Linked DNA regions of Homo sapiens. The protein of the gene in region 4 interacts with the protein of the main gene of each other region in a pairwise test. Each region holds a gene or a part of one and is shown on either strand. Other genes may lie near its edges.

Region 1 (5,276 bases), about 83 Mb from region 4:
TATAATATCTGGAGTACCTCTGGATATGGGCATTATCAAGATGTCAGTCAGTTTAAGTCCATAAATTTGAACATCTACTCTGTCAGGCGACTTTGTCATCATTAGTAATATAGGAGCAAACGACTAATACAACCTTCAAAGAGTTACAGACATCAACCTTATGAACAAGTAAATACATACGGTAATTTGAGGTACTTACCGTTGATATGAAAAAGTACATGGGGATGTGGTACAGAGGGCTATGAAACAGCCATGGGGAGCATCTAGAGGTGAGCAGAGCAGCTCAGTGAGGGGCAACATGAAGGTGGCTCCATCTACTGAATCTCTAACAGGACTCCAGCACAACAGTCAGAAGCTACCATTTCTAAGTGCTTACTATGTGTCAGGCACTGTACTAAGCCCTGTAGACCATCTGCTCATTTAATTGTTCAGAGTTAGTAAAGAACAAAGCCAGTACTAAAACCAAGTCTGTATGCTTCTAAAACCTAGTATCAGGAGCAAGCTTGTCCCATTTTCCAAAGACAGAAGACGGCACATTGCTCTTTTTTGTGAAGATGCAACACTAGGGTCAAGTGGTTCACAATGTTAACAGTTTCCTCCCAACAATTTAGTCTAAATTTTACTTTTCACTCCATTCCATTACTCTTAGGTCTACCCTCTAGAGACCCTTCTGTTCCCCAATTACACACATAAAATCAATTACATTGTATTATCTGATGCCAGTTGTGTTTATACTGTAGAAGGCAGAAAAGTGTTTTTATGAGTGGAGATTGTTTTTCCATTCTGTTCCTTCCCAGGGGGGATCTAAATACTCTTTTTGAAGTTAGACATTGTGTGTGGTTTTGGAGCTGAGTTGGGAAGAGGATGGATACGCACCACACCTTATTTATTTTCTCTTCTGTGAAACAGTCTCAGCTGTTTTTTTTTCTCACAAATTCAATTTCTTACTCTTGAAGAATGACCCAAGCTGAGAAATTTCCCAAACATCTGAAATCTGAGAATTTGTGCCTGGAATCCATGAGGCTCATGGTTTCCAGATGGAAAGGCCGGAAGAATAGGAGGCGGAGGAGTAGAGGCAGGGTGGAGTGATAAAAGGGAGGGGGAGCCTGAACTTTGGATCACTTCTGACTGCCTTGTGAACTAGGCCAGGTCCCTTATTTGCTCTGCAAGTCTGCCATTTGACAATGGGCCAGGTCTGAAGATAGACAGCAGTTTTGCATGTCCTCATGAGGCTGTTTCAGTGATTATTAGAAGTAAGTCATTGTAAAATTGTCTTTTTCTGAAGGCAGTGACTGAAAGCAAACAAGCCCATGACTTGGCTATTCAGAGGGGCATAAACACTCCAGATGGATTTTCTCATTGTCCCAGAAATGGCAAAAGACAGACCATTCTAGGAATCCTGGCTTCTTTATACCACTTAAACATATGCAATGGCAGATGCCCCGGTGACCTAATTCTTCCACGTCTTGTCCTCATAATAGAGGTAAGAGAAAGAGATTAACAGGAAAGCTTGTTTTGAGTACATAACAGTCAAGTATAATTTGGCCACAAGTGGGCTAGGTATACTCTCAGAGGAATGCCTTTATTTGATCAGACAGGTCAGAATCTTCCAGGGAAAATATTAATTTGGGGAAAATAGATCAGAACCTACTTGTTATCAAATGGGAAATTGGCTTGAGTGTTGAGAAATACCCATTTTTATTGTTATCAGTGGTTTGTCATCCTCCCCACCTGAAACTACCCTACTGACACTCCCTATTGCCCTACTATCACCAAGTCAAAGAGCAATCTTGTTCCTCTATCATAGTTCTTCCTACTTAGAAGCTGAATTTCATACTAGGATACAGCCATCCAACTGGGTCTAAAAGGTCTCATAATGTGTGGAGAGAAACCAAATATAGAAAAGTTACTTCCAATTAACACCTCTAATCTCCAGATGTCCTAATAAAAACAGTGAGGCAACAAATGGCCACCCTCAAGCCAGAGAACCATACTTGGACTCAAATGTTTTTAAGAGCCAGGGAAAGTAGCTAACCTCCTCTTAATTTGATCTCCTGGCCTGGGACATATAAATGTTTAACTACACTCTGGCTTAGGGAGGAAAGCAAGCAGAGGTGAATGTATCCTGTAGTGGCATGGCTTCAACAGAGCATTTGTCTCACCCTGAAATATGAAGGAGCAATGCCTGCCTCCTCAAGCTGAGCAGTGCCCAGAATTTATGAACTTCAAGTATGATGTGAATCTGGGGTCCGAGCCAGGCATTATCATTGGGAAGTGGTGGACAATTTCCCTCTCCCTCCCTCCTCGTTTTCCTACTGCTGATTGTACTGTTCAGAAGTGAATCATGATTTAATCCCCTCTGCTGTTAAGAGTATTACAAAATGCTGGTTACAATGAAGTCACAAAAGTATTTACATAAAAGAAAAAAGACGGACAGAGAATGTTATAGCAAGTGACAAAACTCATCATTACCACCAGCAAAAAGATAGGTATGGAAAAATCCTTGCCTGGGTACCAAATGGGATGCAGCTGATTTAGACCATCTCTATATATAATCAGCGTGGCACATGTTTTTACAGTCATGCAGTGTTGAAAGCAGTGCATCATGGGAGAAAAGATAGTTCTAGTCACATGCATCTGGGTTTTTAAATCTTAGCGTCATCAGATCAGGGCCAGGTTACCCCAGAGTGCTCAATAATCCATGAGAAATGAATCCTATCTTCGTTCCAGGGCTTAGTATTGGCATTACACCATTATTAGATGCAAGCAATTCTTTGATTGATGGCTCCAACATGGATTAAGGTCAAAAGTGGCCCTGGAGACCAAATTCCCTAGTGAGGAACTGCCACATAACTTCATGTGTCTTTTGCTTCTGAATTATTTCTTCTAGAAACCACCAACCACAAGCTGTCACGCTGGTATTATATCTACATAACGTTTATTCTTCTTACAGCAAAGAGCTGGAGAAATACAAGTGAGAACCTGTTATTACAGGTTAAATTGTGTAACACTCAACTTGCGCTGAGGTCCAGTTTCTTTTTATTATGCTCCAATTTTGTTGAATGACTATTGCCTAAAATAAATGGGCAATCGACAGGGGCTTAGAACTAACAGGGATGCTTAAGTGACTTTTATGGTAGCAGTATTTGTTGTAACAGAATTTGATCTGTATTCTAGTTATTAGTTTTATTCATCACATTGGAAAGTTGGCACCTCCACTGTTCATGCCATTATATGCAAAGCACTGTAGCATGAAAGTCACTTACAAAGCTGTGAAAAAAACTCTCTGAACACCAGAGGCTCATGAAACAATAAAAGTCAGCTAGGGGGATATACACTGTTTGATTTAGCTAAATATTCTGGATGGTCAAAGGTTTATTCCTTTTAATTCCTAAAAGTTTTTTTTTTTAACCATTGGGATGTAAATATTTCTAAAATGTTTGATATACATATTTTTGTCTTCTAAGCATAGTTTTTTTATGTATGGTGCACAGGGTCATCATTTTAAATAGAATATTGTCCCATGATACAGTGAGGCTCTTAAAGATTGAGATGTGTATAGACTGTTTTTGACACTAAATAACCCATATATCAGGGCTTTGGAGCTTTGCAGTCTACTCAAAATTTCCATTTTCTCTATTGCTGTCCTCCTTTTTCCTTCTTGTTTCCTCTAAAAGTCTGTTTCTTTCCTTTACAGTTAGAAATATGTGTGAAGGAAGAGCAAATAGGTTCTGAGGAGGTGCCTGATGACTAGATGTATGGCCTTTGTCTTATGCGTTTGCTTCATGGTATTTATTTCAATTGGTTGGAAGCCTTGTTTGCTTACTTCTTAATTCTCAGTCACTTTTGATGGGTTCAGCAGAGGTTCTAGATTTTTCTAGTTCTGTCTCAGTTACTCATTGTCAAACCACTGGTTTAGATTTTGTGTTCAGGAAATAGGGATAGGTAAAGCTATCAGGTGGCTAAGCCCTAGGTAAATGAGTTGCCATGAATCCTAAAATATTGTGAAGGTTGTGGGCCATTTTTATAAGGCAAATGGTATGCTGTGGCCGTGACAGCTGAACTCAGTAAGTGAACTTTAAAACAGATAAGCTCCTTTTGCTGTTGTCCCTTTCCAAGAATATGAAGCTGGCCTGACGTCAAGCTGTTGGAGAGCCTTCAACATGTTTAATTAAATCACAGACTCAGTGTCAGAGCTGGCTGACTTTCAGGATTCTAACGCTATAGCAAAAGAAGACATGGTTTTGCCTCTCGTTGATTTTCTTATTTATGGCCTTGGAATAAAGAAGATAAAGCAAGTCTAACAGTTCTCCCTTCCAAAAGTACAGTTTCAGGCCAGAAGATTTGACTGCTACCCTTAGACTTTCTTTCCCTCACTGTACATTGCATTTTACAGGCTATACAAAGCAAGACCTTCTTTGCAAAAGGCAAACTCCTTTGCCCCAAGGCCATACTGTACATGTGTGGGGGTAGTTGTAGGGGGATCAGTGTTGTTATTCACCAATACAAGATGGAATCAGTGCAGCTAGGAGAGAAGAGATTAAGGAAAGAGGCTGTGAAGTCTGCTAGACCTGGGTTTAAATTCTGGCTTCCCGCTTATTAGGGTGTAACCGTGGTCACAGTACTTAATTCTCTAAATTTGATTCCTGAGCAACAAAGTGGGGAATGATAGTATTGGTGCTGTTACTATTATGATAATGTGAAAAACAACAGGAGAGTACCTGGCCCAGAGAAAGAGCTAAGTGACAGCTCTTATTAACATAAATGAATGATTTAAACCTGGAGATTACAATAGTTAACAAGCACAGACACTTAGTGCAGTCTGTTACTGACTTCAAGCAGTCTTTTGCTTTTGTTTCTATTTCTGTGACATCTTCTCTTATTACGACTTTCTGTTGGGTGTCTCTAACTCTGGTGCCTTGTGAAGGCCAGGAGATATTCCAGACAAGCTGAAATTCTACCTTTTTATGAGTATAAAGGAAATGGGGCCATGTTGGACCAAACAAAGAGTAATAAAATAAAATATAGAGTTGTAGCTTTCAGAGGGAAAGATAAAACAAGAAAGGGCTGGGGCAATGGATGTGGTGTTGAGATACTGGCACCAGGAAGCAGGGAAGAAAACCTCCAAACACATTGTGGTTTGTTAAAACACTGAAGACTCCTAAGTGCTACAGTGGCAGGCAGTGCCACCCCACCAGGCAGCAGTGTCCTCCGCAACTGGGGAAGAGGAAGTAGGGCCTAATGATTGCTCTCGGAGACAGAGAGTCTGCTGTCCT
Region 2 (6,346 bases), on a different chromosome or scaffold from region 4:
ACTTAAACCAGTCTTCTGCTCACTGATTCAGTCAACAAGTAATTGAACGTACAAGCAGGTAGAAACCCAGAGAGAGACAAGAAAACTGAGAGCCTATCCCACTGATTATTTCTTCCTGACACCCAAACATCTTAGCAAAAGATTGACTAGAATCAGGTTGCAAACTCTAAAGTCTACTGGAGCCCAGTGAATGATTTAAGAAGAATGGGTGCCTGGTAATAGGGAGCAAGGGGACAGGGACAAGCTAGAGATCATATGCTCCATCTAAAAGTGTTCAAATCGTTTTTCTTATCTACCATTGAGCCAAGTCAAAATGCGTATGCAGCCTAGACCTGGCTCACAGGCTGCCACTCCATGGCCCCTATGTTTAGCCGAATATAGACCAGGGCATCTGGCTAAGAAATTTCACTTTCGATCCAGACAGATACCTGACTCTAAGACATAACCCAAAATTTAAAATCACCTTCCTATAAGTGATGGCTACAATGCACCAGAAGATGATGAGAACTCCACTACAGGAGAAACAAACCAGAACTATCTATCAAGATCCAAGATTTTGGAACCTGAGCTTGATTTCTTATTTCTTCACTATGATTGAAGAGTGCTATTACATAAACAAAGTTTTCGTTTTCTGGTGTCTTTAAAAATCAGCACCTATTCCTAACAACTGCTTTATGGAGGTTCACTCTTTACAACTTAATTGTCTGAAATGCCAAAGAAAAGATGAAGAATCTCTACAATCCAAATCACACTTCACCATAAAGGCTCAAAGATAATGTCAGCAGACACACAGGTGAAATATATCAATTACAAACGTAAGAACTCTTGGCCCACTAAAAACGTGGTTTCTTGAGTAGAGATTGCGAGAAGCCATTTTATGTACACTTTAGTATAATATTTAATGAAAGTAATAAACAGGTCTCATAATTTAGAATGAAATCTGTTTTCTTTTTTTCCTTTCAAGGCCAGTCAACATACACTGGATATTCCAATATTTTTCTTAAATCAATATGCTACTTTTTACCCACATAACAACTTTACAGTCAGAAATATATATGCTAATGTACACTTAGCACTTCTTAATTGTTCTTAAAGCTAAATTTGAACAATAAATTAAATTTCTCAGTATATGTTATGTAATGTAGACACAGGCTATAAAAATGTTGACATTCGTTATATTCTCGTAATGCAATTTAGCCCTTTTAGTAATGACTATGCAAATAATCAGCCATGGGAAAGCCATTTTCCATCTAGTACAATTACCTACTATCACAGAAGTAATTATTATTATTGTCCTCCTTAACTGAAATTCTATAAAAACTCTTGAGATACTAAGATAGTTCCAAGGCCACCGTGAAAACTCTCCTCTTAACAGACTAATCTGGCAACGACAATTACCAGCGTTAAGGAGGGCAGTTGCAGATGAACATTAAACAAGAAATTATCCCCAGAAGGTTCATAAGTTCTAAACTTTAAATGGGGAAATACTGATGACTCCTAGTACATCCTCTTAACACCTTCAAGACACAACTTTTCACTCAGGCAAGGTCAACAGCTCTAAGCTGACTCAACCTCAATTCGTAGAAAACCATGATTCCAACCAGATCACTTTCACCCCTAAACAATATCTACTTTTAGCCAATGTCCCCACAGTACTGGTTACACATAAGGAAACTCAATCAAACCTTCTATTTTACTGTGCTTCAATTTTCAATTTCAGAAATTGTTCCACCATCTTGAAACAGACCAAGGCGCTTGGGTGATCCATTGGCCACATTTGCCGAAGTTCTTCACAAGATCTCTATCCAACTTCACCTTGTCTCTTAGCATAGAGATGAGGACGGCCACAGGGTAGTGAAGAGGGCAACATACACCATTCTTTCAAGGAGCTCTAAGGTCTCCCACCCACCCCACCTGAACCTGCTGGCCGGCAGTCCAGGCCTGGGCCTCACCAACTCCAGAATCATTCACAAGAACATGGTCACACAGGAGACCTGTGCTCCTTTCTCCATTCTTCTTCTCTAACGCCAGTCAGCAAACCCACCACCTGAAAAAGCTTCAACTGCCCACGAGGGCCTAGAGGAAAGAGCTTCTTAGGAATCACCCCCTGCAGTCTGTCGTGGGTGGATCACCCTACAATGTCTTATGCAAAAGGCTAATTCTACCCCTTCTGGGTGCTTATCTCAATGGAGCCCCAAAGCCTTAAGAACCAGATGGCGTTAACCAATTTATGTTCCGGGAAGTGCAGGTCCAGGCTAACCCATGCGGCTGGTTTCACGGAGGCCCAGAAGGCCCTCTGGTTGAAGATGGCTGGTCTCTTAACTTCTTTATCCTGAACCTGGTCTTGGCGGCCAACACCTCTGAGGCCATTCCCTCTGGGGAGTGGTGGCTGGCTGTTCCTTGTGTTGTCCACTTGTGGAAAACCCAAAGCAGTAACAGTTGTGTTCCTAAGCCCTTGCTCCCCAAAGACCATGGGTGTTCCTCCATTGTTTGAAAGATGCCAGACTAATGTCTTCCTTCGCCACTTTTGGGAAGACATGAGAGTATCCAACGCTGGCCACTACTCATTAGGACCTGGAGCCAGGTATCCACTGAGGGTGACGAGAGTACTGGGCGCTGGGCTGGCATCTGTGTCCTATGTCCCCAACACCTCAGACTTCCACGTTCTCCTCCCACCCAGGGCCCTCCGCAGCGCCCCCTTTCGCCCCCAGGGAGCACGACACCCGCAAGGGCCACCCCCACGCCCGAGCCCGGAGGGCGTCCGAGCTGGTGCGGGGGCAGCAGGTGGGGGGTGAGGGAGGTGGCCCGGGGACCCCGGGGAGCGGTTTGGCGGTTGTCCCCCCGAACCCCCACCCAGCCTCCCCCTTCGCAGCCCCCCGGGACCCCGCCTCGCCCCGGCCAGGCTCCGCTCCGATCGCCCGCCCCCCTCCTCCCCCGCGCCCCCGGCCCAGCCGGGCCGCGCAACCCCCGCCCCACACCCCCGCCGGCCGCGGCGCGCCCCCCCGCATTCCCAGCACGTCCGGCGCCGACTTTTACCTGTACTTTCTGTACTCGAGGCGGCTCGTCGGGCGAGAAACACCTCCCCGGGACCGCTACCTCCCCCGCCCCGGCTCCGCCCGGCTTCCTCCTTCCCCTCCAAGGCCGCAAAGTAGATGGAGTAAGAGAGTGTGTGTGCGAGAGAAAGAGAAAGAGGGAGCGGGCGCGGGCGCCGCGGGAGGCGGCGGGCGGCGGGCGGCGGGCGGGAGGCGCGCCCGGCCCCCGCCACCCTCCGGCCGCCGCCGCCGCCGCCGCGGGCTCGGCAACTCCGGATTGCGCCCGGCCCCGGCCCCGGCCCGGTCCCCGCCGCCCGCCGCCGCCGCCCGCCGCCGCCCGCTGACTGGGGCCGGCCCGCGCCCCCGCGTCCCCGTACCTCGTAAAGGTCCCCAGAAGCCATGCCAGGCTGCGGAACTTGGCTCGCCGGTGTGCGCGTCTGCTCGCTCGCGCCCTCCGTGCGTGTGCGCGCGGGGTCCGGTGTGCGCGTGTGTGTGCGCGCGTGTGTGTGCGAGTGTGTGTGGTGTGTTGAGTAAACTGTGTTTTTGCAGAATGACAGGCTTGGGGGCTGCCTATGCGCAGAATCAGAGCGGGCGGCGGCGGGGCTGGCGTAACCGGCAGCAGCGGCGGCGGCGGCGGCGGCGGCACGAGCGCGGGCAGCAGCGACGGCCGCGCAGCGCGCCCGGGAGGCACGGACGCGGCCCGAGCGCCGCGGCCCCCGCGACCCGGCGACCCGGCGGCGGTGGCTGCAGCCGGCAACGGCTCGCCCCGGCGCCGCCTGCAGGAAGCCGCCCGGCGCCCGCCGCCGGCCCGGACGCTGCTGCCACTGGGCGAGTCCCCGCCCCCCGGGAGCCCGGCCCGGCCCCCGGGGCGGGGAGGCGGGGGCTGCTGCCCGGCCGCGCCCCGGGGGACCGGTCCCAGAGTCGACTAGCGCTCGGGCCCGCCCCGCCACCCCGGGCCGGCTTCGGGAGCAGCTGGCGGGGCCCCCGGGGGGCGGCGGGCCAGGTGCCCGCCGGGTGCGCCCGATCTGGGGCCGCGAAGGGGCGGCCGGGGAGCCAGGTAGAGGGCTGCGGCTGCAGACCTCAGGGAAGGGGCCCCAGCCGAGCCCCGCCGGCCCGGGGTCCCCACCTACCTCCTCCACCCTCGAGGGGAGTGGACGCCGCCTGGGAGACCTGGCCCCTCGGGGCTGCGCGGCCCCTCCCTCCAGGCTGGGTTGTAAGATGTGGAGGCCACAGGGAGGAAGGATGAAATGGCCCATCCAGAGGCACCATGGGGATCCAGGACAGGCGTGGCCACCCCATAAACCCTGGAAAGTCTTTAGAGCCAGGGGTGGCCTTCCCTCAACAACCCCTCTCCCCGAATTTATTCACTCATCCCTTACTCAAACATTTACCAAAGTCAACCCAAGTGCACAGTGTCCCTGGACAGGCAAAACTGGGACCCTGCCCAGAGACAGTTTGAATCCGCAAGTGAGGAGTGTAATGGAGCACTCAGTTGTTCTAAAAGGTCATCCTGCGTGTGACAGGCTGCGGAGCTGGAGGAGCTAGAGAAGCTCTCCAAAACCCAAATCCGTTCCTAAGCCATCTCTCATGGATAAATGGTCACCCCTCTGCTTAAAGGGTTCTCCTTATAAATATTTATGTATATAGTTACTTCAGAACCTGCAAGGTCAGACTTCTGAAATTGGAGGGAAGATCTTCATCCCCACCCATGAAATGCCTGCCTGGCTCCAGATGTGATGTATCATTAACTCACATGCTCCCTGGATCATTTTCTACTTGGGAGGCTGTGGGCAGGTCACCGAACCCTGATGGGAGATGGTGATAGTCACCTAAGTGATTTAAATAGAATTAAGGAGAGGATCTACGTATACATGAAGTGACCTGTCCATCCCAGCAGAACTCAATAAAGGTGATTTGTATCTGAGTCTCAACCTGGACTGCCCTCATGGAGAGTGAGATGGCAGAGGGGCTCGATAAATTGTTTAATCCTGAGGTTGTCAAACTTTGAAAAGTCACCAAATTTTTTAATCCAAAAAAAAAAAAAAAAAAAAAAAACTCCATGGAACCTGAAGCATGTCTGGCTCATTCCAGGACACATGGATTTGCATTTGCTGTTCCCCCTGCCTAGAATGTCCTTCCACATTGAATCCATCTGGAACATTCTTGTTCTTCGTATAGGGGCTTGTTTATCTTTGTATCGCAAGCATCTTCCACTGTTCCTGAGAGAGAGTAGGTACACAGTGATTGTTTTTCGAACTATGCCAATATAACAAATTTTATACCAATTTCTAGTTAAAATCCCGCATGAAGATAAGGAAAAAATGGTGAGGATAAGGAATTAATAAATCAGAAAGCATATTTGGCTTAGAAACTGTTGAAATTGTTATAGAACTTCTCTCTTCATATTGATATTTTCCCGGTGGTCATGGTTTTAAATAATAACAGTAATAATAAGCAGTTCTCTATCTGTAGGTAGCTAAACAAATTTTAATGAGTCTTAATTTGTACTCACGAATAAATGCACCACCATAGCATGAGGATGTAATTTGGAAGAAGACAAGAAGGAAACTGGGCTTGGAAATAATATACTAAGCCAAATTTGAATATATAATCAGTAGTTTTACAAAAACACCAAAAGCTTGACTTGTACTGGCCAAGTACTCCCTGAGAATGTGAGTGCAGTTTGAAAAACCCTAGTCTAGACAACAGTTGTTTACAGAGTTCACAGAAGAGGATACTTAGTGTGGATGACCATGCTCAGGAAATGTTTTAGGACTGAAATGGATCTTGAAGACTCATAGAAAAGGAAGGACAGTGTTTTCCGTGAGGAGAAGAAGTCAGAGTAGATGGTAAGCAATTCTGCTATGGGAAGGGTATGAGAAGATTGGAGGACTGGTTTATGGAGGTCACAGGACCCTGGATGGTGAATGTGGGTCAGTTCGGAGATAGTCTTGAAAGCCAAGCTAAGAAGTTTGCTATTTAGTAGGTCAACAGTGGAGAAACTGATGAAGACTTTTGAATCAATCAAAAGCATGTGACTATCAAAAGTGCACTGTAGAAAACAAATTCTAGAAGAAATATGGGAAATCAACTGCAGGGTTTGAGGTTAGGGGCAGGGAGACCAATTGCAATGGTCCCTGGTGTTAGCAGTGGAAATGAAGAAGAAAAATGGGATTTGCGAGATGTTCAGAAGGAAGAACCAGGCTAACTTTCATTATGGTTACTCCACCTACTTCCATGAAGCATTCGATTCAGATCAACAGGACTTGATGACTAACAGGATGTGTGTGCATTGAGGACTTGGGGAGGGGCCG
Region 3 (5,910 bases), on a different chromosome or scaffold from region 4:
TCAATGGAAACATACTCAGAGACTGTCCAGATAATAGATTAGACGGGGACTTCACAATAATGATAAAAATGCTAAAGAATTTACTGGAAAATGTGGACAACATGCATGGAGAGGTGGGGAACTTCAGTGAATACACAGAAACTATTAAAAAGAGCCAAATGGGAAAATCCAGAAATAAAAAATCTGAATCAGAAATAACTCTCCTTCGCAGTCTGGAAACGGTAGAGGAAAAACAATAGTGAACTTGAAAACAGGAAGAGGTTCATATCTATAATCCCAGCACTTTGGGAAGCTGAATTGGGAGGATTACTTGACACCAGAAGTTCAAGACAAGTCTAGTTAATATAGTGAGACCCCATCTCTACAAAAAAAAATAAAAATTAAATTAAAAAATTAGCTGGGTGTGGTGGTGTGTGACTGCCATTCCAGCTACTGAGGCAAAAGAATCCCTTGAGCCCAGGAGGTCCAGTCCGCAATGAGCTATAATCATGCCACTGCACTCCAGCTTGGGCAACAGAGTGAGGCACTGTTTCTAAACAAACAAACAAACAAAAAAATGGAAAATAAAAAGTATCCAAATCAAAAGCAAAGGGACAAAAGTAATTTTTTAAAACATACATGAGATTTTCAGGATAATATCATATAATCTAACATACAAGGAACTAAATATAAAGTCTCAGAAAAAGAGGAAAAAAAAATGGGGCAGAAAAATTTTGAAGACATAGTGACCAATGAACTTTCCAAAACCGATGAAAGACCCAAAACACAGATCCAAATTGGCAAATCTAAGGATAAAACACATAAACACAGACAGACAAGCCTATCATCGTCAAACTGCTGACCAAATAAAAGGAATTGAATCTTAAAGGTAGTCAAAGGGGGAAAACAGACACATTACATTCAGGAGAACAAAGACTCAAATGACAGCAGATTTCTCACCAGAAACAACAGAGGACGGTGGCAATGGAACAATATCATAAAATAACTGAAAGAAAGGTGTAAAACCAACGACCTAGGTTCCACTTTAAGAGGAAAAGGACAGCAAATTAAACCCAAAGTGTTTTAAAAGGGAATCATAAAAATAAAACACTGAAATAGAAAATAGAAAAAAAAGTTAACATTGTTCTTTAATAAGCTGAATAAAACTGAAAAACTAATAGCAAAATTGATTAAGAAAATAAAAGAGCAACCAAAGGTATAATTAAAAAGGGGAAAGGAAGCATCACAATAAATCCTAGTTATTAAACGAATAGTAAGGTTACAATGCAATGTCAATAAATTTGGCAACTTCAGAAAAATCTTTGAATATCATAAATTGTCAAGAGTGACACAAGAAGAAACAGAAATACCTACACAGCCCTATACCTATTAAAGACATTGATTTTATAACCAAAAAATCCTCACAACAAAAATTTCAGTCCCAGATGGCTTCACTGGTGAAGGATCCCAAAAATTTTAAGGAAAAAAAAATAGAACCCTAAATAAATTTTTTCAGAAAAACGGAGGATAGAATACTTCCACTTGTTTTAATATTATCAAATCTACCATAATATAACATGACCAAGCCTGGTTTACCTCAGGAATACAAGATTGGCTTAATATTTGAAAAGCAATCCATGTAATACACCATATTAACAAAAAAACGGGAAAATCTGTATGATCGTCTCAACAGATGGAGAAAAAGAACTGGCCAGGCACAATGGCTCATGCCAGTAATCCTAGCACTGGGAGGCTGAGGCAGGCAGATCACCTGAGGTCAGGAGTTCAGGACCAGCCTGGCCAACATGGTGAAACCCCACCTCTACTAAAAATACGAAAAATTAGCCAAGGGTGGTGGCGCACGCCTGTAGTCCCACCTACTCAGGAGGCTGAGGCCTGAGAATCGTTTGAACCTGGGAGGTGGAGGTTGCAGTGAGTCGAGATTGCACCACTGCACTCCAGCCTGGGTGAGAGAATAAGACTCTGTCTCAAAAAAAAGAAAAAGAAATAAGAAGTTAGCCAAGTTAACAATAACCTTTTATGACAAAAATATTAAGCAAATTAAGAAAAAAATTCTCAATCTGGTAAAAGGCAGTTACTAAAAACCTAGAGCCAATATCAGTAATACTGAAACATTTAATCTCTTTCCCTTTAGACTGGAAACAAGACATGGACGTCCACTCTTACTACTTCAACATTGTACTATTGCTTCTAGCCAGCATGATAAGAAATGAAGGTATATTGGGAGGTTGAGGCAGGCGGATCATGAGGTCAGGAGATCGAGACCATCCTGGCTAACACGATGAAACCCTGTCGTCTCTACTAAAAATGAAAAAAAAAAGTTAGCCGGGTGTGGTGGCACGTGCCTGTAGTCTCAGTTACTCGGAAGACTGAGGCAGGAGAATCGCGTGAACCCGGGAGGTGGAGGCTGCAGTGAGCTGAGATCACGCCACTGCAATCCAGCCTGGGCAACAAACCAGACTCCATCTCAAAAAAAAAAAAAAAAAAAAAAAGAAATGAAGGTATAAAAATCAGAAAATTGTCATTACTCATAGATGATGAGATTGGTAGAAGAAAATTCCACAGAATCTATAAAATAGCTACTAGAATAAGTACACTTGGTAAAATTTCAGAATTCAACGTCAATATACAAATATATTTCTATATACTAACAATAAAAATCAGAAAATCAAAATTTTAAAAGCATTTGTAAAACATGTCGCAGAAAAAAATAACAAAAGAAATGCTTCTACATAGGTAAAATATCTCAAGAAGAATCACTAAGTAACAGATCTTGAACTTACTCCATTATTTAATACACACATAAAAGATACTAATAAAACCCTAAGTTAAAAATAAACTTTTACCTATTTCAAAGTTACTGCATGTAAATTGAAAAGACTTTTTCCACAGAAATAAAGTAGTAGGAGAGTAATGAGTAAGTCTAGTAGGAACAGCTTACCATTCATTCATTTCTCTCATTCATTCTTTTCTCTGGCACAAAGGAAGCAAGAAGAGGGAAAAAAATCTTACAAGCTATTTAGCTCAAGCTTCAGTTAGTCATTCTCAAGCTTAGGTTATGTACATAACTAACATGGGAATATTTTACATTTTGCTCATAATACAGTCCCTATCTCTCAGTTTAAGCATGTAAAATAATTTTGAGAAGCACTGTCAGCCAAAGATAAGGAAGTGCTAAAACATACAGAAAAAAAGTGCTAAATGCATTTTAACCACTCAGCATTCAGATGGAAAGGCCAAATAAGATTGCAGCAGCAAAATGTGATTATGAAAGTCAATTTATCACAAGTTAAGGGGATAAAGAAATAAAGAAAAATGTTTTAACCAATAATTATAGACTATTAACTCTTCTACCAGCTATAAAATTCATCAGGTTAGAATTACTATAATTCTTTTATGTGCAGCTCTATGGAGACAGCAATCTTGCACATAGCAACATTCAATAATACTTTAACAAGTAAATATTAATATACTTCAATGACCTTTCCCTCTCAAAGAAAAAAAAAATCTGAACTTAAGCTTTACCTAAACTGAAGATGCTAGGAGTAAAAATGGAAAGAAGTAGACCCAAAGACTACTTAATCTTCAAATAGCTCACATATCTGCTGTTCTGAAGTTGGGTAGATTCTATAGTTTTACCCAAATTATTGCCTCTTCCCTTGGTTTTAGGTACACAAACTTGAAATTTCAACTAACGCATTTAATAATCAGGTATATACTACACACAAAGCATTGTGCTAGATAATGTATATAATGAACAGGAACATAGTTAAATCTTAAGAGCTGGAGTCTGCTTTCAAGGGCCTGAGACTCTAATAATAAAGCTAAAATAACACGACTAAATAATTTAATGTACAAGTGATGAGTGTCATGACAACTGAAACCAGTGCTGAGAGAGAGGAGTCATGGTGGGAGGAGTCACTTCACCCAGCTGGATAGATCATAGGCAGCTTTCTGGAAGAACTGGAATCACACTTGATCTTTGACTTCAACACAAAGAAAGGATATAAAGACAGTACACCATAATACAACAAGGCTCTGGAATCAAAATGTCTTCTTTTGGATCCTGTCTCCATCACTTACTAGCTATGAATAAAGTATGCTAATTCATCTTCCTAACACCTATCTTGCACACAATGAATGTATAACAATTAACATATATTAATAGTAAGCACTCAATAAATGGTGCCCACTACTAATCTTCAGAAAAAAGAAACAGTAAAGTTTCAGAAAAAAGAAACAATAAAAAAAAATGACAGTGAATCACGAAAGTTCAGCTTTGCTGAAATTAAGACTCATATAAAAAGTAGAAAGATATAAATGGAAAAGATAATTTAAAGCAAATCATTAGCTTTCTTAAAGGCAAGCTAAAAAGTATGCAATTTATTATCTGGGAATGCTGAAGGTTTTGATCAAGCAATGGGATACAAACAAGGCTGGGCATCCATGTCAGAAGAACTGGAAGGGAGAAAGGCCTAGAGATAAAAACAGATTTGTTAGGAAGCAAACTGCAATCATTTAGATACGGAGTGTGAGCCCCCTACTAAGCAATGTCAGTAAGGATTATTAAGAGAGAACCTCATGACTAAGTGAATGGGAGGAAGGAGAAGCCAAAAAATTTCAAGCCAGCATAATTTGGAGAAATGAAATTAAAATAAGTGAATCCAGAAAACACTTCTTTTCAGAAATTAGTTTGAAGTTTAGATGAGCGATCCAAGCAGATATACAGCCAGCAATTAGAGATAAAAGCTTAAGACTGTGAAGAGTGGTTAAGTCTAAACATACTTATGTGAAAATAAATGCAGAGTAGAGGTTCTAGTTTGGAATCCATTAACAAGCTCAGAGTGAAAAGCTCTGAAATTCAATGCAAATGTGTATGTATTTGTAAATCCTAGGGAGACAGTCTTTAATCAGACTTTAAAGGATCTACAATATACACTCCAAAAAAAGTTTTTAAGAACCACTGGCATGTATTACAAAGAAAACCATTCATGGGAAAGGTCTTAGTCCGTTTGTGCTGCTATAACAGAATACCACAAGATGGGTAATTTATAAAGAAATTTATTGGCTCACAGTTCTGGAGGCTGGGAAGTCTCATATCAAGGTACTGGCAGGTTTGGCAATTCTGATTCCAAGATAGACCTTGAACACTGCATCCTCCGGAGTTCCTCCCATGGCAGAAGTCAGAGGTCTCCCATAGCAGAAGTCAGAGGGGCAGAGGCAAAACCTAACCTTTTATAAAGGCATTAATCCAATCAACAAAGGCAGAGCCCTCGTGACCTAATCACCTCTTAATACTTAACGAAATTAAATTTCAACATGAATTCTGGAGAAGACAAACATTCAAATCTTAGCAGTAATTAATGAAATGTCAGAAGTAAAAAATGGATGAAGAAAAAAATGTCAATGTAACAACACTGAAAAATACAATTAGAATCTGAAGAAAAGGAACAAAAGAGGGTAAGACTGACTTAAGAAAAGGAACCAACACATTAGGGATTCAAGGCAAGTAAGTTAAAAAGGTGGCATCAACACTGATGTTATACACGCATAGGGCAAAAAATATAAAACTTCAGGCAATAAATATAAATTGATTGGTAACACTGAGGTAAGTAATTTTGGTTGTAATTATATTACAACGAAGAAATTCTATTCCAAGACATTAAGAAGTAAATGGCTGAGGGCAAATTAACAAAAAATTAAAAGTCTGACTACTACTTCAAGATTTACCAGCGACAGGAACAGAAAGCTAGCAAGAAAGTGACTAGAAGCGTTTTATCTTTTGTTTTGTTTTTTGCTATTATTGCTGAGTTTTTCCTAAAGAATGGGAAATGGACTTACTATGCCAAAAGAAGCCAACTGAAAAGGAAAGGTCAAAGGAATCAAAAATACTCAAAAGTTCAGGAGTAA
Region 4 (4,900 bases):
GAAGAGCTGGTCTCATTTCTCCCTTCCTTCCCCATCAGGGAGACTCTGAGCCAAGGTACAAATGTCATGTGTGTGACAAATGCTTCACACGGGGCAACAACCTCACCGTGCACCTTCGCAAGAAGCACCAGTTCAAGTGGCCCTCAGGGCATCCCCGTTTTCGGTATGTCTCTCAACCCTCCTTCCCAGATTAACACACTTGTTTTTATACCTTTTCAACCAGTTTTAAAAACCTTAATTTGGGTCGGGCGCGGTGGCTCACGCCTGTAATCCCAGCACTTTGGGAGGCCAAGGTGGGCGGATCATGAGGTCAGGAGTTCGAGACCAGCCTGGCCAACATGGTGAAACCCCGTCTCTACTAAAAATACAAAAAGTAGCTGAGCATGGTGGCACATGCCTGTAGTCCCAGCTACTTGGGAGGCTGAGGTGGGAGAATCACTTGAACCCAGAAGGCGGAGGTTGTAGTGAGCTGAGATCATGCCACTGCACTCCAACCTGGGTGACAGAGCGAGACTCCATCTCAAAAATAAATAAATAAATAAATAAAACCTTAATTTGATGGTGGTTTTATGTCTGCCATTTCCATTTAGATTCAAAGAATCCTAAGAATAATGGTGGAGCAAAGCTTATTTTTCTGTTTTTTGAATCTTGTAAGGCATGGTGCCAAACCCAATAAATGGTGCCAAAAAGTCCTGCAGCTGGAACTAGAGCTAGAGTCTAAGGGTTCTGATCCTTAGCTCCAAGGCCTTCTCATAAATCCTTTGACACTTTCACCCTCCAACACAGTCAGTCAGTCTCTGTTTTTCTGGTTGGGTTTCTATATAAAACTTTCCATTTTGAGTAATGATCTTTCCCTCTTGCCTTTTCTTCTACATATTCCAATAAAGACCTTTTTTGTCTTCAACTCCTGTCACTTGGATTCCAGGACTTCTTCCATCCCTCATGTTTGTTCCTTACTTTGCCAGCCTCGGCCATTTCTGTATCCCCCTGCCTGGGTTTGCTGCCCTTTATGCTCCTACCTCACCAGGTACAAGGAACATGAAGATGGCTATATGCGGCTGCAGCTGGTTCGCTACGAGAGTGTAGAGCTGACACAGCAACTGCTGCGGCAACCACAAGAGGGATCGGGCCTGGGAACGTCGCTGAACGAGAGCAGCCTGCAGGGCATTATTCTAGAAACAGTGCCAGGGGAGCCAGGACGTAAGGAAGAGGAAGAGGAGGGCAAGGGTAGCGAAGGGACAGCCCTCTCAGCCTCTCAGGACAACCCCAGTTCTGTCATCCACGTGGTGAATCAGACCAATGCCCAAGGCCAGCAAGAGATCGTCTACTATGTGCTGTCTGAAGCCCCAGGGGAGCCTCCCCCAGCCCCTGAGCCACCTTCAGGGGGCATCATGGAAAAGCTTCAAGGAATAGCTGAGGAGCCAGAGATCCAGATGGTTTGAAGGCCGCAGAGCCAGACCATTTCTTCCCCAGGTCCTGAAGTTTGAGCCAGGCAAGTGGCAGTGCCCCTAGTGGGCAGCCGTTGCCAATGGATGCCTTTAGGAGTGGTGCCGAGAGCAGTGTGGTCCACTCTGGCCTGGGTTTGCATCATTCTGCAGACTCTAAAGACTTCCCTTTTCTGCCAGACTACATTTTGTGGGGAGCCTGAGGACTCTGGATTCTTTGAGGGGATCCTGGATGTGTGTGTTCTTGTTAAAGAGGCTGTTATCAGGCTTAACCATAACCCTCAAGATCTGCTTGACAGTGATTAAATCCTTAGCTCACATCCATTCCCATCTTTCGGGCTCCTTAGGCCCAAGGATGGCATGTGACTGGTCCCTGCAAGGGTCCTTTCTTTGTCACCAGCCAAGGCATTGATAACCAAGTAGCCATTTTCCTCTTAAGGTTTCCTCTACAACCCCAAGGACTTTCATGATTATCCTCAGGGACAGGATTGGAGGCATTGAGCGTGTTTATTAACAAATTGTTTTTGGTAATAAAATAAATGCTTGGACTCTTATTTATTTCTTCTTACATTTGGTGGCAGTTTACTAGGTAATGAGGAGATACAGCCACCCAGAAGAGGAGCTGAATAGTTAGGCTTGTTCCCCTTCTGGTGACTCAGGTGGTTTGTTTTTTGTTTGCTTAACTGTCCTGTTGTCTTCTCCTCCTCCCCTTGGTGAAACTTCGCTATTCTCAGAGCGTATGCCATTTCCATGGAGGTCCCAGGTGTTTGGCTGTGAGTGGGCAGTAGTGGTGCTATAGAATGAACAAGAATGGGCTCACTGGGAGGATAGGGCAGCTGACCATGGCCTCACTCTGAATACTGATTAGAACCCAGTGCCTCTAGGGTAGGGGTTCTTTACCTGGGAGTGGGAAGGAAGCTGGGGGGTGGAGAGGATTGGGAAGCCTCCCAGGGAAGGGAGGCAATCAAGTGGTCCAGGAACCAAACTAGAAAATTGTGTGTCTGAATGTGCATTTTCCTGGGGAAAGGATCTGTTTTTTGCTAGATTATCAAAGAGATTGAAACCTCCCAAAATAAGAATCATCATTTCGTCTGGTTCAGCTGCTTCTCAGCACCCTGTGTCCATTTTTATGGTCTACTGCTATGCTGGAGAGGTCAAGGAAATAGTCTTGGGGACAGGAAGCTGCCCAAAAAGGATCTCTGGGCCTTTTTTTGTAAGACCTAATTCTATTACTAGAAAAACTAAGGCTGAATGCAGTGGTTCACGCCTGTAATCCCAACACTTTGGGAGGCTGAGGCGGGCGGATCACAAGGTCAAGAGATGGAGACCATCCTGGCCAACATGGTGAAACCCCGTCTCTACTAAAAATATAAAAATCAGCTGGGCATGGTGGCACACATCTGTAGTCCCAGCTACTCGGGAGGCTGAGGCAGGAGAATTGCTTGAACCCGGGAGGCTGAGGTTGCAGTGAGCCGAGATCATGCCACTGCACTCCAGCCTGGCGACACAGTGAGACTCCGTCTCAAATAAATAAATAAATAAAGAAAGAAAAGAAAAACTGTGTGTGTCTATTTGTGGAAAGAAAAAGATCTCTTCATTAATCCCATCAGCCATTTATTGAGTTCCTACTATAGTCCAGGCACAGGTGCTAAGGATACAAAGATGAATAAAACCCAGGACCTTCCCTGGAGGGACTTGCAATGCAGAAGCAAGGAAAGACTAGGTAAGCTGAGTGATAGAAGTTAATCAGGGTACATTTAGAAGGCTCCAAATAGGAGTAATGGTACTACCTGGGCAAGGGATCAGGAAAGGTTTCATCCAGGAAGAGACCTTCCACCTAACCAAGACTAGATGAAGACTTTAAAGGTTCTAAACTCTGAAAAGATTGTGGTGTCCCATTTTTCATATGTAATCAGAATGAAAATATTAAGCCATGAAACATTTAAAGTTCAACATGATTATACTTAAAACATATATTGTATATAGATTAACTATCAAATTCTGTTTCTAATTTTTTCTTTTATTTTTCAGTTCCCCAGTTTTGCTGGTGTCTAAGCACTGGCGTGGGGTGTCCCTTGAGTAATGCAGCACTAATGACTCTATCCATTCTTCCATGAGCAGTGTCTTCGGGAGCAGGCCAGCATTCTATGAAAAGGACCTTCCCTACTAGTCTTCTCAGTCATGCCCACACCAAATCGCATTGCTCTATCTGGACCATGGAGACAGCAGAAGAGATTCTGGTCTGTTACCATGTGATTCCATTCCCTAGGAGGAGGGGTGACTTGGGATCCTGGACTCAGTATGCATGGCTTAGAAAGTACTGGACCAGGAGTGAGGGGTCACTGTTGAGTAGTCTAGGCAGCCAGAGGCCTCTGGAAGGATACTAAAGGCTGTGGTGGGTGACAGTGGGCTCCTGGAGGGAGGAGGGTGATGATACTAATTTGGTTACCTTAGAATTTCACCTAGAGTCAACCCTGGTCCCAGCATCATGGTGTCTGAAGATTAAGGAGACACCCTGTCTTAGTCTTCCTTAAAGGGGGTAGGGATAGGAGAGAAGGCAGGTGGCCCAGGAGTTGGAAGCAGATAACTTCTTTTCTCTTATTTGTGGCAAGTCCACAACCACAGAGGACTTAGAAGAACTGGGTGGATATAAAAAAGTGTCAACTATGGCCGGGTATGGTGGCTCACGCCTGTAATCCTAGCACTTTGGGAGGCCGAGGTGGGCGGATCACTTGAGGTCAGGAGTTCCAGACCAGTCTGGCCAACATGGGGAAACCCTGTCTCTACTAAAAATACAAAAATTAGTTGGGCATGGTGGCACATGCTTGTAGTCTCAGCTACTCAGGAGGCTGAGGCAGGAGAATTGCTTGAATCTGGGAGGCAGAGGTTGGAGTGAGCTGAGATCACGTCACTGTACTCCAGCCTGGGCGACAGACCAAGACTGTCTCAAAAAAAAAAAAAAAAAAAGTGTCAACTAAAAAGGAAAATTGAAAAAGAGGCCAGGTGCAGTGGCTCATGCCTATAATCCCAGCACTTTGGGAGGCCGAGGTGGGTGGATGGCTTGAGCCCAGGAATTCGCGACTAGCCTGAGCAACATGACAAAACCCCAATTCTACAAAAAATACAAAAATTTAGCCCAGGCGTGGTGGTGCATGCCTGTAGTCCCAGCTACTTGGGAGGCTGAGGTGAGAGAATTGCCTGAGCCTGGGGAAGTTGAGGCTGCAGTGAGCTGTGATTGTGCCACTGCACTCCAGCCTGGATGACAGAACAGTGTCTCAAAAAAAAAAAAAAAAAAAAAAGAAAAATGATTTCTCCAAGATGAGAAGGGAGAGGAATGATGAATGGTCATGGGGAATAAATAATTACTGTCAGATTATGACCTAGTGAATTTGGACACTCAATGCATGTTAAATGAATAAATGAAGTTTGCTCAAGATCAGGAATCAAATGAGGAA
Region 5 (6,424 bases), on a different chromosome or scaffold from region 4:
AAGGGCCTAGCCTGGGGTCTCTGTTTACCCGGCCCCTGTGTTCTGCCTGCCAGGCCAGCTGTCTCCCAGCCATGCTGCTGGACCCCTGCCAGGCTCCCATGTCATCGATGCCTGTGCCGCCCCAGGCAATAAGACCAGTCACTTGGCTGCTCTTCTGAAGAACCAAGGGTGAGTGCCACAGGAGGAGGAGGAGGAGGACATGGGGTTTGATTTTGTGCCTTTCAGTGGGTAATAAAGGCTGAAAGGATGACTTTCGCTTAACTCTTTCCTGCTGTACCAAAGTAGTTCACGGTATTTGCCCCAAGCTAAGCTTTCCCCACTGCAGGTGTGAGATGTGGATCCCTTAGCCCTTGGGGCAGAGACCCCAGGCCAGTTACCTCTGACCCTGGGCCCTTTAAATATAGGCCGTTTCAATATTGTGTGTCCTGGCTTAACCTGCATGTTCTGGTTGTCTGTGTCAGCTGTGACAGGCCCTTAGCTGCTCCATGCATGCTCAGCTCACCCCTGCTCTGCCCTCTGCCCTAGGAAGATCTTTGCCTTTGACCTGGATGCCAAGCGGCTGGCATCCATGGCCACGCTGCTGGCCTGGGTTGGCGTCTCCTGCTGTGAGCTGGCTGAGGAGGACTTCCTGGCGGTCTCCCCCTTAGATCCGCGCTATCGTGAGGTCCACTATGTCCTGCTGGATCCTTCCTGCAGTGGCTCGGGTGAGATGGTGAGAAGGCGTGGCTGAGGGACTCGGAGGTCCACAGCAGCTTAGACCTGGAGTCATCTGTTTTGGTCTTAGTTCTGACACTTTAATGGGCTTGGGACCCTGGAGCAAAAGTTCTCCTCTGTGAGGCAAGGATTTCAGGAGCGAGGATTTCAGGACTGAGGCAGCCTGTGAAGCTGTGTAACCGAGACACGCTTTTCCTTAGGTATGCCGAGCAGACAGCTGGAGGATCCCGGGGCAGGGACACCTAGCCCGGTGCGTCTGCATGCCCTGGCAGGGTTCCAGCAGCGAGCCCTGTGCCACGCGCTCACTTTCCCTTCCCTGCAGCGGCTCGTCTACTCCATGTGCTCCCTCTGCCAGGAGGAGAATGAAGACATGGTACCAGATGCGCTGCAGCAGAACCCGGGCGCCTTCAGGTACAGGGCGGGCGCCAGGGTCGTGGAGGGGGGGATGGGGTGAACTGCTCTCTTACCCAGCATTGGGGCTGTTTCTCTTGCAGGCTAGCTCCCGCCCTGCCTGCCCGGCCCCACCGAGGCCTGAGCACGTTCCCGGGTGCCGAGCACTGCCTCCGGGCTTCCCCCAAGACCACGCTTAGCGGTGGCTTCTTCGTTGCTGTAATTGAACGGGTCGAGATGCCGATGTGAGTGAGTGGGGGCATGCTTGGGAGGCGCAGGATGGTACTGGCACATCTAACATCTACACTTCTCTAGCTCAGCCTCACAGGCCAAAGCATCAGCACCAGAACGCACACCCAGCCCAGCCCCAAAGAGAAAGAAGAGACAGCAAAGAGCCGCAGCCGGTGCTTGCACACCGCCTTGCACATAGCAGAGGCTCCAGGCTGACTCCTTCCTGGTGGGAAAGGAAGATGCCTGTCCTCTCCGTGGAGGACCCTGGGCCCTCACCGCAGGCAGCAGTTTGCATTTTGAAAGGTTATTGGGTCCCTTCCTCGGGCTGTGTTCTTGCTGGTGAGCAAAAGTGTTGCCTGCAGAAATAAAATGCAGAACGTACTCTACGATAGATCACAGTTTTTTATTCTTAATGTCACAAGCAGGAGAAAAATCTCACATTCATACTAAAAATTCCAACTAGACTCAACAGGAATGAAGTCTCTATTTGTAATGGAAAGTCCCAGCCTCCCGCTGCCGTCCAGTGTGTGTACTGTACACATCCACACTCACTCTCACTCAGGGTTCCCGGACCGGCTGTCCTGCCTGCGGAACTGAGGTAAACAAGCTCAGGTACTGACACTAGGAGGGTCTACCTTACATAAGGTACAGGTAGAAGCTTGATTGCTAGGCCCAGGCCCACCCAGACCCTCCAATCCTAACAGGTATTTAGGCTTGAGGTTCACTCCCTCCTCAGCTGCACACGCAGCCAGGTATAACACTCGCCCTCAGTCACAACGGGGAGGGGGCACCGGTTACATCTACATCACATTATTTATAAAATAAGAATTACATTTCATATAACATGGCCAGAAGGAGCTCTAGTCCCCCAGGAAAGCTGCCGGGGACAGCATTTGAGCCTCTTCTTTGCACAGGCATAACTTAACTATACAGCTAATTCCTAGTTAATAGCATTTATACTTAACCACCTCAATGAACCAAGCTTGAAGGAATTTAAAAGGCAATTTAGCTTAAATACAAAAATAAATTTTTGTTAAAAAACGTTTAAATATTTTTTTCTTTTAATTTAGACACACGCATTCATACTTCTCCCAAAGAGGTTGGGCGTGACAGCAAGGCGCTTGGGCCTGGGGTATGTGGTTTCAGAAGGACGGAAGGAAAGGATGGGCTGCAGAGGGCCCTGTTTGGGAAAAATAGGATTTTAAAAATATGGTTCATTAATTTAGGTTTTCTAACATCTACTTTGGGTGACGTAGCCTCCAGTGAGGTCAGTTAAGTGGGACAGAAACCGCAGAGGGAAGAGGTCTTTGCTTCCCCTGGGCCCATTCTCCCTGGCTGCCAGCCCTTGAAGTCAGAACACCATGGGAAAATTCAGGAGTCGGCACTTGTAGCCGTCAAGTGGTGCTACTTTCCACATTCAATTAGCGAGGCCCCAGAAAACTTGAAACAGGAAGTCCGGCACTACCAACATGCCGCCACTCATACAACTCAACTCTTCCTCCAAACTCGATTCAAAGAGCAATACACAGAGCGTCAGACAAAGGAACACAGGACAAGGCTTGAAACATACAATCCTGGAGAGGCAGACGAGGGCCCAATGGGGCCAAAGGGTAGCTGGGCGAGGAGGCAGCTGAAGCAGCAGTGGGCATCCTGCCTGCTCCAAGAGCTTCTCCCTTCACCCCTGGCTCTGCCAGGCTAACAGTCTTGAGCCACCAAGCTCTGAGGGGCCAAACTGGCAGAGGGTTGGAGATGAAACATTGATTCAGGCTTGGCAGGAAGAAAACGGCAGGAGCAGCACCCACTGGGGTCTCCAAGGCAAAGCTAGATTCAAGGGCATTTAAAAAGGAGGGAATCCTGCAAGGAACCGGTGAGGGACACAGCAGCAAGAAATGGGGAAACAGAGTCCCCAGAAGGGACCAGAGGAAGAGAACCACTTCTCACAGCTAAGCCAAGCAAGATAAAGCTTTAGGGATAACCCATTTCCCAAATCCCATCAGGTGCACACCACCGATCCAGGCGGGCTGGACCCTGCCCCCTCCAGCGACGACGGCTCTCGGGGAAAGGTGGAAGGGGCGCCTGCCTAAGGGTGCGCTAAGCGGGAGTCAGGGCAGCGGACACTATGTACAGGTCCTTAGTTCTCCAGCCTCCCCAGTGGAACTGTTCAAGTAGAGGTCCCGGGCTTTGGCCCTCCGCATCCTGCTTCCCCTTCCCTGAGGCTTGTGCTTCCTCCAGAAGGGAAAGGGCCCCAGGGCTGCCACTGCCCCCTGGCGGCTGAAGCCAGAGATCCGGGGTAGGTTTGCTTTACGCAGCTGGAAGGGTCCAAGGCTCTTTCTAGCACGTGCCAAGGTCCAGATTTAGGGAAGGGGTGGGGGGAACAGGGACAGGGGACAAAGGCTACTTTTTGCGGGTGTGCTGCCTTCGGGCCTGCAGTCGCTGTCGAGCCCCTGGGGTCTTGGATCCCGCACCAATGGAAAATGAAGGGGCCGCCGATCCTGGAAAGATTCAACAAGACCTCATCAGGGCAGCTGCTACCTGAGACTCTGGCTCTGGGTGCCCAAATCTCTGGAAGGCCAGGCCAGTAATAAAACACAGGGTGCCTCAATAGGGCTTTCCCCGCTGCGTCAGAAACACTGTACGGGAGGAGCCTCCTGAAATGCAAACTCCCAGAGTCTCAGAGCGAGGCCCACGAATCCATTTTTACCTGGCTTCCCATGGGAGGCAAACTTCCACCCCGGACAGCTCCTCTCTGATCTCTGCCATCCAACTCCCATCCCTGGGCTGTGCTGTACTCCTAACCCGAAATGTCTTTCCTGTGCTGAACCTGATCTTCACGGGGCCTCAGAGGGCCAGGAGCCTGCCACCCCACCCAACCTCTCCTCAGACAGACGAGCAGGGCCACAGGGTGGCTTGCTGCTTACCGAACGGTCCAACACCAACAAAGCCTTGGGCGGGTGCTGAAGATGCCCCAAAGGAGAGGCTGCTGCCCGATGTGCCCACTCCAGGCGCAGGGGTGTTCTGACCAAAGGTGGGGGTGGCGGTGCCTGGAATGAAGAGAACAGAGAGCTAGCCAGTGAGCAGAGGGCGGAGGCAGGCGAGGAGCCGGGCAGGAGCCTGTGCTCTGCAGGGCACTTCCCACGGGACCCTCAGCCCCACTTCTGCTTCTGGGGCACTCCTCCATCAGCAGCTGAGCCAGACAACCGAGTCTTCATGCCTGGTGCCCCAGCTCAGCCTGCTTCTCCCACCCGCTAATGGCCACGCCAGGGCAGAGAAAAAGCCCCCCTGCCCCGCAGCCACCTCGTGGGCCTCCTGACCATCGCTGCAGAGGGGAGTACTCTGGGGCCCCCGCCTCCTAGCGTACCTGGGTTGGCTACCTCCTCTGTTCAGGCCTTTTCCCCCTAGCCACCGTCCCCTCCCCTCTGAAGCCTGGTTTGTCCGTCCTGTGTCTTTTGTGATGCCCCGTGGTCCCCTCCCTTCCCCGGCCTTGCCCTGACTGGCTCTGGCTGCCTGCCCGATGCCCTCTCTGGCAGCCCCTCTGCAGGGATGGCTGCTCTCAGGGCTTGGCCTCCGGCCCGGACAAGGGGAAGCTCCCTGTGCTCCCACGCTGCTTCCACACAGTTTCTCTTCCTTCCCTAAATACCGTAACTCAGGTTCAAATCACTTTAATCTGCCATGTCCTCATGTCACCTGTCAACTGCCAGGTCACTCCCTGATTCACAGAGGACCCTTGGCTCACTGGCTTCCTCCCCATCACCACTCACGGTGACTTCGCCCTGTGGGGCTGACTGATGGTCCTCTCAGCCCCTCGGCCCTGCCACCCCCATGACCTCCTCTCCCCGACCCCTGCCACCACTCCTGCAGCCACACTGTCACCACAACTGCTCCGGCTCCCGAATCTCCTGCAGGCACCACCCCTCCTGCAGCTGACTTCACCCGCTCTCCACTCCTGCACCCCCTGAGCTGCATCGGGGCACTGACCCGCTGCCCCTCCTGCTGTGCTTGCTGGGGTCTCCACAGCCGGGTGGCACCAGCTGTCCGCTGACCTTAGATCTATACCCAGTGTCGCTGGGAAACACACGCCATGCTAACTGGCCTCACTTTAACTTCACAATCACAATTTTCCAGCCCACAAACTGCCTGGAAACTGATCACACTTTTTAATATGATGTTCCTTTCCCCCACTGTCCAAAATGACTATTTCAAAAGACCCCTTTTTTATACACTTTATCCCGACCTTCCCTCTCCCAGATTTTCTCTCCTACTTCACGAAGCAAACAGAAGCCATGGGATCTACATTCATCTTCCACACGGGAGGAACCATCACTGCATCCTTCTGCCTGATTCTGCAATGGTTTTCCTGAACACTTAAGACCCAAACACCCAACCCTGGCCACAAACAATCCTCGCCTCTTGGCCTCCTTCCACACCACTGCTTTAGCTCCTGCCCTCCTGCCATGCTTGTCTTTGTTCTGCTCTTCAACATACCAAACATGTTTCTGCCTCTGGGCCTTTGCATGCGCCATCCTGGGCCTGAAAGGCATGTCCACTTGTGCTGTGCCCACCCCCACCCCACCCCCATATTCAGCTTACGCTTGAGACAGTCTTGCTCTGTCACCTAGGCCAGAGTACAGTGTGGCATGATCTTCGCTCACTGCCACCTCCACCTCCTGGGTTGAAACATTCTTCTGCCTCAGCCTCCCGAGCAGCTGGGATTACAGGTGGGTACCACCATGCCCGGCTAATTTTTTGGTATTTTTAGTAGAGACAGGGTTTCGCCAAGTTGCCCAGGCTGGTCTTGAACTCCTGTCCTCAAGTGATCCACCCTCCTTGGCCTCCCAAAATATTGGGATTACAAGCATGAGCCACTGCGCCCAACCTTCAGCTTACAATTGTTAAGTACTCAGAAGGCCTTTGACCAGTTAAATCCACAATGGCTCCTCCAGTCATTACTACGTTAGCAAAACATGTATCATGCCCTGGCATCTCACTGAGTTCTATATTCAGTGCCTGTCTCTTCACTGCCACAGCATAAGCTCCCCGAGACCACAGGCTTCACAGGCACAGCTTTTCAGTGTCCGGCCCGGTAGCCCAA

The links.
Region 1: the proteins of HINFP (region 4) and TRIM44 interact in a two-hybrid assay, tested with the Homo sapiens proteins (one large-scale study listed by BioGRID).
Region 2: the proteins of HINFP (region 4) and CDYL2 interact in a two-hybrid assay, tested with the Homo sapiens proteins (one large-scale study listed by BioGRID).
Region 3: the proteins of HINFP (region 4) and RBM26 interact in a two-hybrid assay, tested with the Homo sapiens proteins (one large-scale study listed by BioGRID).
Region 5: the proteins of HINFP (region 4) and POM121C interact in a two-hybrid assay, tested with the Homo sapiens proteins (one large-scale study listed by BioGRID).

What each region holds. Positions count from the first base shown.
Region 1 is NC_000011.10:35,811,908-35,817,183, reverse strand, and holds part of TRIM44 (tripartite motif-containing protein 44), read right to left. Parts: 3' UTR 1-5,276. UniProt on the Homo sapiens protein: May play a role in the process of differentiation and maturation of neuronal cells. May regulate the activity of TRIM17. Is a negative regulator of PAX6 expression.
Region 2 is NC_000016.10:80,800,741-80,807,086, forward strand, and holds the start of CDYL2 (chromodomain Y-like protein 2), read right to left. Parts: upstream 3,859-6,346; 5' UTR 3,434-3,858; coding exon 3,410-3,433; intron 1-3,409.
Region 3 is NC_000013.11:79,395,212-79,401,121, forward strand, and holds part of RBM26 (RNA-binding protein 26), read right to left. Parts: intron 1-5,910. UniProt on the Homo sapiens protein: May be involved in the turnover of nuclear polyadenylated (pA+) RNA.
Region 4 is NC_000011.10:119,133,057-119,137,956, forward strand, and holds the end of HINFP (histone H4 transcription factor), read left to right. Parts: intron 1-38; coding exon 39-163; intron 164-887; coding exon of another isoform or gene 888-1,027; coding exon 1,028-1,442; 3' UTR 1,443-3,003; downstream 3,004-4,900. UniProt on the Homo sapiens protein: Transcriptional repressor that binds to the consensus sequence 5'-CGGACGTT-3' and to the RB1 promoter. Transcriptional activator that promotes histone H4 gene transcription at the G1/S phase transition in conjunction with NPAT.
Region 5 is NC_000007.14:75,415,067-75,421,490, forward strand, and holds the end of POM121C (nuclear envelope pore membrane protein POM 121C), read right to left. Parts: intron 4,377-6,424; coding exon 4,254-4,376; intron 3,828-4,253; coding exon 3,730-3,827; 3' UTR 1,720-3,729; downstream 1-1,719. UniProt on the Homo sapiens protein: Essential component of the nuclear pore complex (NPC). The repeat-containing domain may be involved in anchoring components of the pore complex to the pore membrane. When overexpressed in cells induces the formation of cytoplasmic annulate lamellae (AL).